2 separate regions of the Homo sapiens genome follow, and region 1 is linked to region 2. The links come from fine-mapping of genetic effects on gene expression. Tissue or cell type: lung. Region 2 holds a variant in brackets; the other region holds the start of a gene. All regions are shown on one strand. Distances are between the middles of the regions.

What was found. PIP is the estimated chance that this variant, and not a neighbour inherited with it, causes the effect.
Region 1: it holds the start of PIBF1, and the variant in region 2 is fine-mapped to the expression of PIBF1 in lung (TOPMed, PIP 0.94).

The regions. Positions count from the first base shown.
Region 1 is chr13:72,778,789-72,786,976 of GRCh38, reverse strand. PIBF1 (progesterone immunomodulatory binding factor 1) reads right to left here and starts at 4,844. Exons shown (of 18, transcript NM_006346.4): 1 at 4,628-4,844; 2 at 3,256-3,554. The coding sequence starts at 3,507. It overlaps DIS3 (DIS3 exosome endoribonuclease and 3''-5'' exoribonuclease), which reads left to right and starts at 5,077. Exons shown (of 21, transcript NM_014953.5): 1 at 5,077-5,372; 2 at 5,974-6,131. The coding sequence starts at 5,145. RefSeq lists enhancers at 4,944-5,053, 4,971-5,885 and a silencer at 5,334-5,383.
Region 2 is chr13:72,911,437-72,919,624 of GRCh38, reverse strand. It overlaps PIBF1 (progesterone immunomodulatory binding factor 1), which reads right to left. Exons shown (of 18, transcript NM_006346.4): 13 at 2,459-2,549. Among named protein-coding and RNA genes, the nearest start is that of PIBF1, 130 kb to the right of the region's middle. The variant A/G (reference allele first, on the strand shown) is at 4,105.

The DNA.
Region 1 (8,188 bases), 130 kb after region 2:
TAAGGCACTTAACAATTCAACTGGAAGTGTTTAACCTTAGCAATGTATGTAATGATGCATCTTACAACAGAGGTGCTTTAGGTTCAATAAATTATGGAAGGCTAACTCTACAATAGGTATTTCTTCATATATTTGAGAGCAAACATCTTATTCCTAAAGAGTCTTCAAGCAGAGAATCCTGAGTGCTCGTATGATAGAGAAAAAAACTCTACTAATATACAGCAGGGCAGCTATTTTGGAGATAACCTGGCAGTACACTTAGTTAAATGAAGGAGACATTTATATATGTCAAAGACATGCTCACAGAGGTCCAGAAGAGAAATGTCTAATGCTGCATGTGTTGCAAGGAGCTGGAGGCAATCTGGATGCCTAGCAATGTAGGAGTAGAAAGACTGGTAGACGCACACAAAGAATTACATAAGAGTTGGAAGCAAAGGACTAGATGTATACAAAGTAATAGATAACTTCAAAAACAGTGCTGAGTAGGAAAAAAGAGATGAGAACTAAAACAAAGCATATAATTTACATTTCTGTAAAGTTAAAAGATACACATTCTCAAGAATACATGTAAACAAAACATTAAAATGTTTGCATTAAGAAATGGAATGAGCTATAGGAATGAAAAGAATAAATACATTAGAAAAACAGCAGCCTTTCAGGGATCAATGATGATTATGTGTCAAACTCAGGAACACGACTATTGCAATCTTCTACATTTTCAGTCAAACTAGAAAACCACAACAAAAACTACACTAAGCACCATGGAAGTAGAAAAATAATAATATTGTGCTGAGTAAGTATAGCTACAAATAAAATAATATGTAAATAATAAGTTTATTATTAGTATACACCAAGCATCTATGAGCTTACATACATTGATTAATCCTCCCGATAATTCCACGGAATAAATACTATTATCATTTTATAGGAAATCACGGAATAAAAACATTAAGGAATTTAGTAAGGCTGGAATTCAAAACCCAAACTGTGTGCATCTAGAACTGTAATTTGGATTTGTTACACTAGAGAGCCTGTCATGAATCAACCAACATTTCTATAATATAAAGCTTACACCTAAAAAGAAGCAAAGCCATTGACAACCAAGGACAATGCAAGTTGAAAACAAATAATACAAGAGGTGGCTGAACAAAATGTAAGTCTGGATATGGTATACAGGTGGCACTTAAAAAAATACTTGTTGACTGAGTGGGTGAATTAATGAATGGGAGATAACCTCAGGTTTCTTCAATGAGTTGCACTAAGGTCTGGAGAGGTGAAGGTAGATGGAGTTCATGTGAAATGCAAAAAGAGTAAGGGAATAGGGATGGGAAACCACTGGATGCATGGATAAACTACCAAGTGACCTAGACTAGGTAGGTGACTGTATAGGGTACCTAAAAGAAAGTGTTTGGAGCTTCACTTGTGTAGAGTATAGGCTTTAGACTTCCTAGGTTTGAATCCTATCTGGCTCTATCACTTTCATCTGAATGGCCTTGGGTATGCTATTAACCACCTAGTGGCTTTGTTTAATCAGAGCAAAATGGGGTTCAGTCATTCATTTAAGAAATAGCTGGGCACTTAATTTGTGTCAGGCACCGTTCTAAGTGCTGGAAATACAACCATGAATACAAAAACATCCCCGTCCTCATGGACCTCATAGTCTATTCACAGACAAATAACAAACAAATTCAGTCCGATGGCCATAAAAGGCACAGAAAATGAAAGGGATGAAACAGATAAGGATGCTATGTTAGTTGAAAACAACAACGGCTAATACGTCTTGTGTGCTTATTTTTTTTTCTCCCCTCAAAATTTGTATATTGAAACCTAATCACCAATGTGAGTAGCAGGAAGTTGGGGCCTTTGGGGTGATTAGGTTATAAGGGTAGAACCCTCACTGTTGGGATTGGTGCCCTTATAAAAGTGATCCCAGAGAGCTAGCTGGGCATGGTGGGGAGCACTTGTAATCCCAGCTACGTGGGAGACTGAGGCAGGAGAATTGCTTGAACCCAAGAGGTGGAGGTTGCAGTGAGCCAAGATTGTGCCACTGAACTCCAGCCTGGGTGACAGAGCAAGACTGTCTCCAACAACAACAACAAAAAACAACAAAATACCTCATATGTTAGATTTTTTAAATTGAGCCTACAAAAGTAATTTATCCATATCTACGTTTAAATCACTCCATATTTCAATACTTAAATTATTATTATTATTTTTTTGAGATAGGGTCTCACTCTGTTACCCAGGCTGGAGTGCAGTGGTACGATCTCAGCTCACTGCAATGTCTGCCCCCGGATTCAAGTGATTCTCCCGCCTCAGCCTCGGAAGTAGCTGGGCCTGCAGGCGCAGCACCACTACGCGGGGCTATTTTATTTTTTTAGTAGCAAGGGTGGTCTCACCATGTTGCTCAGGGTAGTCTCGAACTCCTGAGCTTGGAGCAATCCACTGGCCTCAGCATCCAAAGTGCTGGAATTACAGGTGTGAGCCACCGCACTTGGCCTCCAATTATTATTATTATTATTATTACTAGTTTTTGAGAGTCTTGCTGTGTTGCCCAGGCTGGAGTGCAGTGGCACGATTGTGGCTCACTGCAAACTCTGCCTCCTGGGTTCAAGCAATTCTCCTGCCTCAGCCTCCCGAGCAGCTGGGATTACAGGCACCCACCATCATGGCTGGCTAATTTTTTTTTTTTTTTTTTTTTAAGTAGAGCTGGGGTTTCACAATGTTGGCCAGGTTGGTCTCAAACTCCTGACCTCAGGTGATCCCAACTGACAGATAAAACTGTGTGTATATGTCATGTACAACATAATGTTTTGAAGTATACGTACATTGTGAAATGGTTAACTCTAGCTAATTAAAAAATGTTTTACCTCACATAGTTATTTTAGTAATGAGAACACTTAACATCTGCTGTGTTTTTCAAAAACACAATGTTTTCCAAGATTACAATGTCATTAACTATAGCCACCATGCTGTCCAATAGATCTCTTGAATGTATTCCTCCTATTCAACTGTAATTATGTATCCTTTGACCAACATCTCCCCAACCCTCCTTCACCCCTAACCATGCCAGCCCTTGGTAACCACCATTCTATTCTCTACTTCTATGAACACCAAAATTATTTAAAGGCTGTACTTGTCAAGAAATATAAATGTATCATTTCAAGTTCAGATAATGTGTGTATTTAATTCTTATTTACCTGCCGTTTGAAGACAATAAAGCATATAGAACACAAAATTTAAACCTGATCTTACCTTTGTAAGATAATCCACTTTCAAATTGTCGATCATCATAGTTTTCTGGGATAGCTCAATTTTTAGTAACTGAATATTATGAAGTAGTTCTTTTCGTTCAATTAGCTGCCTGGTGATTCTGACTTTGCCCTCTCGCTCTTCTGATGAGGAAATATCATCCGTAGGAACTGTTGTTTCTAAACTAATATCTTCAGATTCCAGAGAACTAGAGATGTTCACTTTTTTTGACTCCTTTGAAATTTTTCGAGACATTTTTATTATTATGGATCAGTTTTCTTCTCTAATTTGATTTTAATATTCTGTAGGTTAAAAAACATTAATTCAAATGTACTATAAAATTAACTACAGAAATCATGGACTGTATTAAAGAGAGACTAAGGATTCCTTAAATAAATATTAGGCAATTTAGTGCATCCCAAATCTAGAACAGATTATTGCAGTTAAGTTAATGCTCAAATCAAACACATTAATTCCTAATATGAAGTCAGCCTTCGAGAAACTTAAAAAAACAGTTCCTGCGGGGAGGAATCTTACTTGGAGGAAACAAAGAAATGTACAAGATGAAGAAAAAAGCCCATTATAATCAAGAATGGCACCACTAAAACCAACACATGCTCAAAGATAACAGAAATCACGTCTGAGTTGGTCAGGGAAACGTTACACAGAGGTAGCACTTAGAATCTTTAAAGATTTGGACAGGCATGGTAAAAAGGAGAAATCATGCAGTTATTAATGATACGTAAGTGGAAGTAAAAAAACAAAGCCAAGTCTTGGAATAGTTACTCCTTTCACCGCCCCCCCAACACAAACACAAACACACACACACACACACACACACACACACACGCCCTTAACGATCAAGACTGGAAGGCCTTAAATGTCAAAATAGGGTTGGATTTTATTCTACAGGCAATGAGGCATCATTGAAGATGTTTTAAATAGGGAAAACGGGGACAAAAACATTTTTTATAGATAGCAGAATGAAAACAACAGGATATAAGAAAAATTCAAGAAATTCTAAATAGAACTTACTTCTAACTCTCTCATAAGAATGTTAGCAACTACCTTGTTTTAATACCTCATGATATAACAAATTATGCTATTAAATATTTCAGTTTTTCTAAACTGAATGATAAGGAAAGGTGTGTGGAGGGGAAACAGCGAGAACTATACTAAGATCGGCCTCCCTCCTTCTTTTTGAAGGGAAATAGGTAAGAAAAAGTGAATTCAAAGACAAATTCTCTCCTCGATTACAAAGGGCCCGAGACGGGGACTGCCTATACACTCGGCGTGAAAATTAAGCCCCAAACTTGGCAGCTCGGGGGATTCCTTGCCCCACGCGGGAAAGAAAGCGATGATAGTCGCAAGTTACCTCGAAAGTGTCAATTACTCCACACTGAAGCCTTGACCAGCAGCCAGTGCAGACACCGAGGGACCAAAGGCGTCTCCGGTCGGAAGCACAAGGTTGCAGGCCCTCAACAAGGGATTTCAAGGCAGGGGACCGTTAGGACCCGTAACCAAGACAACCATCTCCGCACCCGCAAGGAGGACAGAACCAGCACTCCCACAAGCCGCCGGAAGTCAACTCTCCCGGATGTTCCGAGGAGCGGAAAGCAACACACGTTGTGAGGTGGCGTCCAGAAGGAAGCCCCGCCTAGGCCACGGGCGGAAATGGCTCCTCGCCTTGCTTTGCCGCCCCTCCCCACTCTCGCCCAATCCCCGCGGCCGTCAGAGAGCCAACCAATGTTTATCTCGGCATTTTCCCGCGAGAAGTGTTACTAATATCCGGGAATGGAAAGGGAAGAACCTCCGGGGTTAGGCGTATTCTAGATTGACGCCTTTTGCTGGAAGAGCGCTGCTGGGGTTAGGATTCTGCGCGGCGAGGCAAGATGCTCAAGTCCAAGACGTTCTTAAAAAAGACCCGGGCGGGCGGCGTGATGAAGATCGTGCGCGAGCACTACCTGCGAGACGACATCGGCTGCGGTGCGCCCGGGTGCGCAGCGTGTGGAGGGGCGCACGAGGGGCCGGCCCTGGAGCCGCAGCCCCAGGACCCGGCGAGCAGCGTCTGCCCGCAACCGCACTACTTGCTGCCCGACACTAATGTGTTACTGCACCAGGTGCGTGGGCGGGCGAACCGCGGACAGCGCGGCCCCACGGGGACAAGGGGGTATGACAGGGAAACTGAGGCCCAGGGAGGCGGGTCTTTGGCAGTGTCACATACCTAGCGAAAGGGAAACCCCCTCGGGACCGAAGCTTCCTGTTCCCCAGGCCGAGGTTCTTTTCCTTGTGCTTTAAAAAATTTAGTTCTTGGAGTCGTAGTTCAGACACGTTATTTTTCTAACTCCTGGTGTCTCTTCTGCCTTAGATTGTAAGTGCCTGGAGGCCGGGGACCTGGGCTTCTGTGGCCTCCAGCCTGCGACTCCCAGGCAGCTTGTAAGTGCCTAGGAACAAAAAACTATGTGGGCCAACGTATTCCTTTATTAATACCCTTAATTCTACGAAGTCTTGTGATTGGTCTGTTTAAGTGTGCTTTTTTTAATAGATCTGAAGGGTTTAGTGACTATTGTCTCGTTTTCTATAGCCAAATAGCTTCTTGGCTTAACTTATTCAGTGTTTTTAAAACATAAAGTATTTATGCCCAACATAAAACAGGATTTTATGTTTGACAGAGCTATTTACAAATGAATATAGGAAAAATTAACTTTATCTTTCTTTAAGATTGATGTTCTTGAGGACCCTGCCATCAGGAATGTAATTGTGCTACAAACAGTTCTTCAAGAAGTGAGAAATCGCAGTGCCCCCGTATATAAACGCATCCGAGATGTGACTAATAACCAAGAGAAGCATTTCTATACTTTCACTAATGAGCACCATAGGTAGGAGGAATATTACGTTAAATATCAGAAAACCACAGGATTAGCAAAATTCGGGAGAGGGTTCCTGTGAGTAATTTATGACATTGTCAGAAGATAAGTGATAGATTTCATACCTTATTTAATTCTTACATGGCTGTGCAGAAGATAATGCTAAGTGGATCTCTCTAAGGTCACACAGGCATTGATGGGCTCAAGCCTAAAACCAAGGTCTGCTGACTCCTAGACTACAATAGGTACTTTAATTTCCAAAATGTTTTCATTTTGAATTGGTTTTAGCATGAGTTGGACCATAGAATCTTGGAAGATGAGATTTGCTTAAGTTCCTGGAATACCATATTATGTGAACAACTAACAGAGGGTAATAAAATATATGAGTTTGTGAAGTTTCTATTTTGTTTAAAAATAGAAAGTAGATTTATTCTTAATGGTCTTTTTAAAAGTTTAATACTTTGCAGCTGATTACATTGAGCAAGATTAGGTTAAGGAATAGAATTCTTTTTTTTTTTTTTTTTTTTTTTTTGAGATGGAGTCTCACTCTGTCACCCAGGCTGGAGTGCAGTGGTGTGATCTCTGCTCACTGCAACCTCCACCTCCCAAGTTCAAGCGATTCTTCTGCCTCAGCCTCCTGAGTAGCTGGGATTACAGTCACGCACCACTATGCCAGGCTAATTTTTGTATTTTTAGTAGAGACAGGGTTTCACCATGTTGGTCAGGCTGGTCTCGAATTCCTGACCTCGTGATCCACCTGCCTCAGCCTCTCAAAGTGGTGGGATTACAGGCATGAGCTACCGTGCCTGGCCAGGAATATAATTCTTTGTTGTGCTTTTAGATTCAAGACCTTTGAACTCAGTGTGTGGTCTCAAAAATATGATATTGCCTATTACGTTATATTACATAAATAATCTATGATGAGTATGGTACTTTTATTGGATTAGATCAGGGCTTCTCAATCTTGGCATTATAGATATTTTGAACTGAATAATTTTTTTGTGGTGGAAAGGCTGTTTTATACATTGTAGTATGTTTAACAGTGTTCCTAGCCTATTTGGCAGGATCACCACCCCTTACCCCCCCCACCACCACCACCACCACCACCACTCAGTTGTAATGATACAAAATGCCCTGAGGGGTGAATTCACTCAATTGAGAACCATTGGATTAGAGTGTAGACTTCTGGTAATGAAATTCCATCAGATTATGCACATTTTTAAAAACCTTAATATCTCAACTTTCTTGATTCTTATATCTCAAACTTCAATGTTCTTGTAAAGAATACCAGTAAAGCCCTTGTAGGCTTCTTATTGTTAGTACCTCCTTGAAATCCAGAAATAGCAACATCACTTGTTTTTCAGTGCAGAAAGACCCAAGTTTAAAACCAATTCAAAAATTTATGACTGTGTCTTTCACTGATGAGCTTAAAACATTAGCAGCTGGGCGTGGTGGCTTATGTCTGTAATCCTGGCACTTTGGGAGGTTGAGGTGGGCAGATCACTTGAGGCCAGGAGTTCCAGACCAGCTTAGCCAACCTGGAAAATCCCTGTCTCTTAAAAATACAAAAATTAGCTGGTTATGGTGGTACATGCCTCTAGTCCCAGCTACTTGCGAGGCTGAGTTGGGAGGATCACTTGAACCCGGAGGTAGAGGTTGCAGTAAGCTGAGATCATGCCACTGCACTCCAGCCTGAGCTACAGAGCAAGACTCTGTTTCAAAAAAAAAAAAAAAGCATTAGCAAGTGCATTCAACGATGAGGAATAAAATAATTCTAAAACTATTAATATAAATCAAATTATTAAATTGAATCTATTACCATTAAGTACTGGAAGCTATTGTAGTGAACTTTGCTGTTGTACTTAAACCTGGCTTTGATGAACAGATTTAAAGAAATAGATGAATGTGTTGACATACTTGGGAGTTTAGATAGAAGAAATACGTAATATCTATTAATATACCTGACTTTTCAGTCTCTACATAGCTTCAGCTATTAGTGTTTACCATGGATAATTTATATGCATTATTTATTAATGACTGTAGAATTCTGATTATAAATGATCTAATTA
Region 2 (8,188 bases):
TATGACCTTTCCCTTTAAATTTCAAGTTTTAGTATTTTACCTATCATTTACTACTGATAAGTCTCTTACCCACAAAACTATGTTCTATTCTTCCTTAGGCAACATTGGACTAAGAAACAGATATGCTGAAAATTACAAAATATCCTAGGTTACCCATTGTGACTTTTAGAGGAAATGGGAATGGGACTGATTTTTTAAAAATACATAATTCTGAAATATCTGAATCCTCACCAGACAGAATTAAACATTCCAGCTACAAATATATACTTTCTATTCAGCTCGCCTTGATCAAAATTTGGCATATATTTAGTTTAACTGGTAAGAGCCATAAGTTCTAACTATCCTTTTCTTGCTTTCTATAAAGTGCTCTATATTCTACATCACTTTATTTTTTTATTCACCACTATATTAATGAGGATACATCATTTTAGATAGCCATATAGATGTTCTATTTTCTGAGTCATTTTCTTAGTGTACAATGTCTCTAAATGTCTAAATCAGTTCACATAAAAAAAAGCAACTCTGAATTCTCAAACGCTCTGATGAAGAAACAATTTTACTAGGTATCCTGCACTGAGTTAGATAGAGAAAGTGAAAAATAAACAAGAATAAGATGTAGTTGGCACGGCGTGGTAGCTCATGCCTGTAATCCCAGCACTTTGGGAGGCCGAGGTGGGTGGATCACTTGAGGTCAGGAGTTTGAGACCAGCCTGGCCAATACAGTGAAACCCTGTCGCTATTAAAAATACAAAAATTAGCCAGGCATGGTGGCACATGCCTGTAATCCCAGCTACTCGGGAGGCTGAGACAGGAGAATTGCTTGAACCTGGGAGGTGGAGGTTGCAGTGAGCTGAGATCGTGCCACTGCCTCTAGCCTGGGTGACACAGTGAGTCTCTGTCTCAAAAAAAAAAAAAAAAGATGTAGTTGCTAGACTGGGCATGGTGGATCTCTCCTGTGTTTCCAGCACTTTGGAAGGCCGAGGCAGGTGGATCACTTGAGGCCAAGGCCAGGAGTTCAAGACCAGCCTGACCAACATGGTGAAACCCCATCTCTACTAAAAATACAAAAATTAGCAGGGTGTGGTGGTGCACGCCTGTAGTCCCAGCTACTTGGGAGACTGAGGCAGGAGAACTGCTTGAACCTGGAAGGTGGAGGTTGCAGTGAGCTGAGACTGTGCCATTGCACTCCAGGCCTGGGTGACAGAATGAGACTCCATCTCAAAAAAAAAAAAAAAAAAAAATAGGTAGTTGCTGACCTCGAAGAACTTTCCATCTAGATGGGTAAATTACACAGGAAATGATAGCTAATGAGATAAGAGAAATGCTCTGCTGTGTGGTACAGAGAAAACAGTTGCTTTATAGGCAGAGAAATAGGTATATCCACTGCACTTTGGGTAGAGAGGCAAATAAGGCTGGAGAGATAGAGCTACATTATAGAGGCGCGTGGAAGTCTGAAAGAAACATTTAGATTTGATGGATTTGATGTGGTAGTGAATGGGGCCGTGAGATGTTTTTGCAAAGCAGGATAAATTTTCGTGCAAGAGAGGAGTTAGGAATAAAAATCAGGCAGGTCAACTGGAAACCTGATTAATGTAGGTATAATTTTCTGTTAGCATACAGTTGTCTGTTGGTATCCACGGGATGCATGGTTCCAGTGTACATTCTCCACCTCCTGTGGATACCAAAATCCATGAGTGCTCAAGTCCCTTACATACAATTGGTATAATATTTGCATACAACCTACGCATATCCTCCCATATACTTTAAATCATCTCTAGATTACTTATAATACCTAACAAAATGTAAATGCTATGTGAATAACTGTATTAAGGAATAATGACAAGAAAAAAAGTCGGCACATACTCAGCATAGATGCAATCATCCATTCTTTTCGCGAATATTTTTGATAAGCGGTTGGTTGAATTCACACATGTGAAACCCATGGATATAGAGGGCTGACTGTACTTTTAAACATTATCTCACAAGATAACTAGTGGGTCTTCTAAATATTCTCTTGGTTTTGTAAAGCCTTTCATAGTTTCAATTACAATATATGCATTAATTCCAAATCACTCTCCCTAACATGTATGTGAAGGAATGTAGGCAGTTGAATAAAAATGAGAGAAAGAAAAAAAAAAAGCACAATGAATTTTAATCTGAATATTCTTGATACAAAGCATTTGTAGCTCATCTGAAATTAATGTGAAAATAAAAACAAGGTCCTTATCATCGAATCTAATTCTACATAAATTCTTATGCACACTTCTACAAACCACTAAATTTATTTAAATATATATGAAATACATGATTATTAGTGTTTTATTTTGTGAGAAATTTAATATTTATGCAGAGTAAGAATAAAGGACTTTGTCACTGAACTCAGCACATTATCAGAAAGCACAAATGTAATTACATTCATCTTGAGTAGATAAATAAAATAAATATATATTGATTTTACCTTTGCTTTAGTCGTCTTTTGGCTGTTGTGGGAACATTAGCACCATAGCCGTAGGAAAAAAGAACCCTTTCAGCCTCATCTTCATTTTCAACTGGAAAATATTAAAGTGTATAATGTGAAATAACTTTATTTTTCCTTTAAAAAAGATGGCAGAAGTGAAAATAAAGGAGGTTATAACAAATTAGGGAGGATAAAAACATTAGAAAGGGCTAATATGTAATCTTAAACAGCCCATTTGTAAGTAGAAACATATTTCTTAAAGTATATCCTTGCTTGAATTTGCTCCATTTATTTTTGAAATGTATAAGGGATTGCATCATATCATGTTAGGTTTTCTTGTTAAAAAGTATAATAATACATGTATTATTCTGAAGGACTCAAAGGCTTTTTGCATGAAATATGCTATGTAATATAACAAATAATGATAACATATCAAAGTCATCAATTCTGTTCTTGATAAATGATTTTTAAATTAGGACAAATATTATTTTATCAGAACAACTTTATTTTAATTTGCAACAATAAAATTATGTACTTATGTAGGTTACTCTATTAAAAACTGTGCAGCTCTAAGCATGTATTGATGGCCTTACTTTTTTTAAATGTAAAAAAATTATGTGAAAATAATTTACTTTTAAATTCTGCTATTGTCACACTACTTCCCAAAAGGAATTTTAACTAACAGGTTAACATCTTCTGGGTAAAAAACTTGAAATGCAATGACATTTTACTGCAAGTTGGGATTAAAAAAATATATATATATATATATTTTTTGAGATGGAGTTTCGCTCTTGTTGCCCAGGCTGGAGTGTAATGGCGTGATCTCTGCTCACAGCGACCTCTGCCTCCCAGGTTCAAGCGATTCTCCTGCCTCAGCCTCCCCAGTAGCTGGGATTGCAGGTGCCCACCACCAAGCCCGGCTAATTTTTTTTGTATTTTTAGTAGAGACAGGGTTTCGCCATGTTGGCCAGGCTGGTCTCAAACTCCCAACCTCAGGTGATCTGCCTGCCTCAGCCTCCCAAAGTGCTGGGATTACACGTGTGAGCCACCGCACCTGGCCAAAAAACATTTCATCATCAAAAAAAACCCCCAAAACACCAAAAAAAGTATTTCATCAAAGGCTATAGTTTTAATAGCTCAAGTAAAAGCAGTCATTGACATATAAAAACTTTCATAATATTATTTATCACCAGCCATTATTTTAATGTTAAAAAGATATTCACTTTCAGGAATATTTCAGAATTAAAACAAAGCCACATATTTTACAACCATCATGATGTTTCATCTTCTGCATGCCTATCAATGTAATAGGGATACATTTGTTGATTGGCCCTTCTGTAGTAAAGATTTTAGAAACATTTATTAACTGTTTTCTTTTAATTTTGTCCCTATCTTTCATGGTGAATCAGGATTAGCTTTCTGAGGAAGAATTATTAGTTGAGAGAGACACATGGAAGAGATGATACATGCCATTACCAATACTATGATCAGCTAGCAGGTAAGTCCAGATCCAAGATGAGTTCTCCAAATAAGCTCTACTGGAACTAGAGCTAACATTTAGATATGTAACTGACTCTTGTTTCTCCTTAATAGTTCTAAATTCAGAGGAGAGAGGGGTAAATTTAGTTCACATCTCAAAAACCCAT[A/G]AGTTAGATATTAATGGACATGCTAAATGTGAGTTTAATACTTAATGGATTAATAAATCATGGGATAACTATTCTAGCAGGGATTAATTACAGAAACAATGTATTATACAACTTGGTCAATGCTACTAAAGGGATCTGAACAATGCTATTAAAGAGATCTGAACAATGTGTCTTAGAAGCAGAGCGCAGGGCAACTGCATCTGAGTGCCACTATTTCCCATGCTACAAGGTATAGGGTAGATATGGGGAGACTGAGATTCAGTGAAGGAATAGGAGAGAAGTCCATGTGCAGAAGCATAGACTTGTAAGGTATGTGAAGTTTTAATCCACAGGATTAAGTCCCTTATATAAAATGGTATATATATATATATCTGCATATAACATATCTACACCTTCACATACACTTTAAACCATGTCTGCATCACTTACAATACCTAACACAATGTACATGCTATATATAATAGTTGTTATATTGTATTTTTAAAAATGTATTATTTTTTATTATTGTCTTTTCCCCAATATTTTCAATCCACAGGTGATTAAATCTGAGATGCAGTATCTGCTAATAGAGAGAGCAACTGTACAGAAAAATTAGGAAGTTTCAGGGAAGAAAGAGGAAATGCAAATAATGTTAAATTTTCAGCTGTGCATGGTGGCTTATGCCTATAATCCCAGCGTTTTGGGAGGCCCAGGCAGGGGGATCCCTTGAGGCCAGGAGTTTGAGATCACTCTAGGCAACATAGTGAGACCGTGTCTCTACAAAAAATAATTAGTTGGGCATGATGGCATGTGTCTGTAGTCTCAGCTACTTGGGAGGATGAGGCAGGGGGAATCACTTGAGCCCAGGAGTTTGAGACTGCAGTGAGCTATGATTGTACCACTGCACTCCAGCCTGGGCAACACAGTGAGACCCTGTGTCTAACTATAGAAATTACTAGCCTATTGATAGTAACTGAAGTTGCGGAAAGGGAAAAGATTATCCAGAAGTTAAGTGATGGAAAATAAACAAAGGCAGGTGATTCAAGAAGCAAAGAGAAGGGAGTTCTGAGAAATTCGACAAATGCCTAGTGAAGGTTATAAGTATGATGAGGATGTGTGGCAGGTAACTGAATTTAACAACTAGAAATCTAGGTTGTTTTTTTTTTCTAATATGAGTTTATTTAGCTTTTAGACAATACTTATACTTTTAACAACTTGATGAAATCTTTGAAAACTAAACTCAAATATCCAAATAATACTTATTTGATTACAGAAAGCAATACAAGTATAAATAAGATACTTTAATTTGCTATGGTTACACCTTAATAAATGAAGGCTAATCACCTTCATGTCGGCTAAAATTACCCGAATTAAATGGCAAGCCTTTGAAAATTGTATACAATGTAGTACTAAAAATAGTCTGTTGAAAAAAGTCAGCCGAAATTACCTGAATTAAATGGCAAGCCTTTGAAAATTGTACACAATGTAGTACTAAAAAAAGTCTGTGCTCACTTCTTTGAAATTTTAGTTAATCGATAAGTATTCATTAAATAAGGACAAGGTATATTTTAATTTCCAATGTGAACTGATAGAGAACCTAGTTACTGATCTTCTAGTACAGGTAAATCTATTTTATTTGAAGTTGGTTTAGATAGTATCATAACAAAAATTAATTTCTATTTTTCTGCAGCTTTTAAGAAAATATTTATACATGTGGACACACTGAAAAAATGTACAGTATACATCCATATACTCAACATCTGCAATTTTTTTTTTTTTTGAGACAGAGTCTCATTCTGTCACCCAGACTGGAGTGCAGTGGCGTGAACACAGTCACTGCAGCCTTGACGTTCAGGGCTCAGGCGATCATCCCACCTCACCCTCCCATGTAGCTGGCACCACCATGCCTGGTTCATTTTTTATTTTTTTGTAGAGATGGTCTTGCCAGGTTGCCCCGGCTGGCCTTGAACTTCTGGGCTCAAGCAATCGTCCTGCCTTGGTCTCCCAAAATGCTGGGGTTAAAGGCATGAGCCACTGTGCCTGGCTCCAACATCTGGATTCTAAATCAAACATACTATGTGTTTATTATACATATATCCACCCGTTTCCATGAATGTTTTTTTGATGCATTTCAAAGAAAGTTGTGGACATTTGCACACTTCACTCCTCAACAGTTTAACATGCAAATCATCAATTATAATTCAATATGTATTTACAGTTATTTTCTAAAAAATAAGATTTGTAACTTTCACCATGTATAAATTTTATTTTTATTTTTTAAGTCTACCATTCAACGAGTTTTGAAATGTAAAAGTTTTGAAATGTACAGACATGTGTTTAACACAAACCCTATCAAGATATATAGAACATCTGAATACCCTGGAAAGTTCCATGTCACTTTTCTCAGTTAATTTTTGGTGACAATCATCTTTAGAGACAACTACAGTTCTGATTTTTGTCTTTTTAAAAATAAAAAAAAAAATTTTTACCCCCACCCCTTGATTTTTTTCATCATAGATTACTTCTGTCTCTTCTAGAACTTTATATAATCATATAGTATAATCATACTATATACTATAATCATACAGTATAATCATACTATATACTATAATCATATAGTATAATCATACCATATACTATAATCATATAGTATAATCATACCACATACTATAATCATACAGTATAATCATACTATATTATATAAAGTACACTTTATGTTTTTCAGATTCATCCATGTTGTTAAGTAAGTCAATTGTTTCCTTCCAGTGAGGAGAAGTATTCTACTACATGAATGTATAATGGTTTGATTAACCATTTTCCTTTGAGATACACACCTGGGCTGTTGTCAGTTTTTGACTATTATGAATACATTTCCTATGAACATTCTAGAGGAAATCTTTTAAGGTGCATATGCTTTCTTCTCTCTTGGGTAAGTAACGGAAATGCTGGATCACTGATTAGGTTGTTTAATTATTTTGTAAGAAACTGCCAGTTGCTCCACTTCTCACCAACATTTGGTATAGTCAGTCTTTCTAATTTCAGCCATTCTTGTGGGTATACAGTGGTATCTCACTGGGCTTTTAATCTGCTTTTCCCTCATGACTAGTAATGTTGAATACTTTTATTATGCTTACTTGTCATTCACATGTCTTCCTTTGTGAAGTGTTTAAACCTTTTGCCCATGTTTTAAACAGGACTATTTTTTTTTTAATCACTGAGTTACATGAATTTTTAAATATATATTCTGGTACATTAATTTCCTACTGCTAACGTTAACAGATTGCCAGACTTTATGGTTTAAACAATACAAATTTATTATTTTATAGCTCTACAGGTAGTAAGTCCAAAAATCAGCCTCACTGACCTGAAGTCAATGCTTTGTAGGGCTGGTTCTGTGTGAAGGCTCTATGGTGAAATCTGTTTCCTTGCCTTTTCCAGCTTTTTCAGAGGTTCCAAAGATGAGGACATGGACATCTTTCTTTTCTTTTCTCTTTTCTTTCCTTCCTTCCTTTTCCTTTCTCTTTCCTTCCTTCCTTCCTTCTTCCCTTCCTTTCTTTCCTTCTCTCTTTCTCTTTTTTTCTAGAGATGGGGTCTCACCATGTCAGGCTAATCTTGAACTCCTGAGCTCAAGTGATCCACCTGCCTCAGCCTCCCAAAGTGTTGGAATTACAGGCATGAGTCACTATGCCCAACAGGACATGGACATCTCTAGAAGGATGTTTTTCAGCCCACCACATTTGGGTATCATTTTCTTTTGTTTAATCTATGTTTTGTGAATATTTTCTCCTCAATATTTTCTTATTTTGGGTATCATTCTTTTGTCAGATATAAAATTGTGGTTATTTTCTTTGAGTCTGTGGCTTGGCTATTCATTTCTTAATGGTGTCTTTTGAAGAACAGAAGTTTTAAATTTTGATGACATCTACTTTATCAGTTTTTCTTTTATGATAATTACATTCAAGGGCCATGTCAAAAAAAGTCTTAATGTACTCCACGTTGTAAAGATAACTCACCTATGTTTTCTGTTACATATTTATAGTTTTAGCTATTCCATTTAGGTATCGTCTCAGATTAATATTGGTGTATGGAAGTTTACTTCCATAAA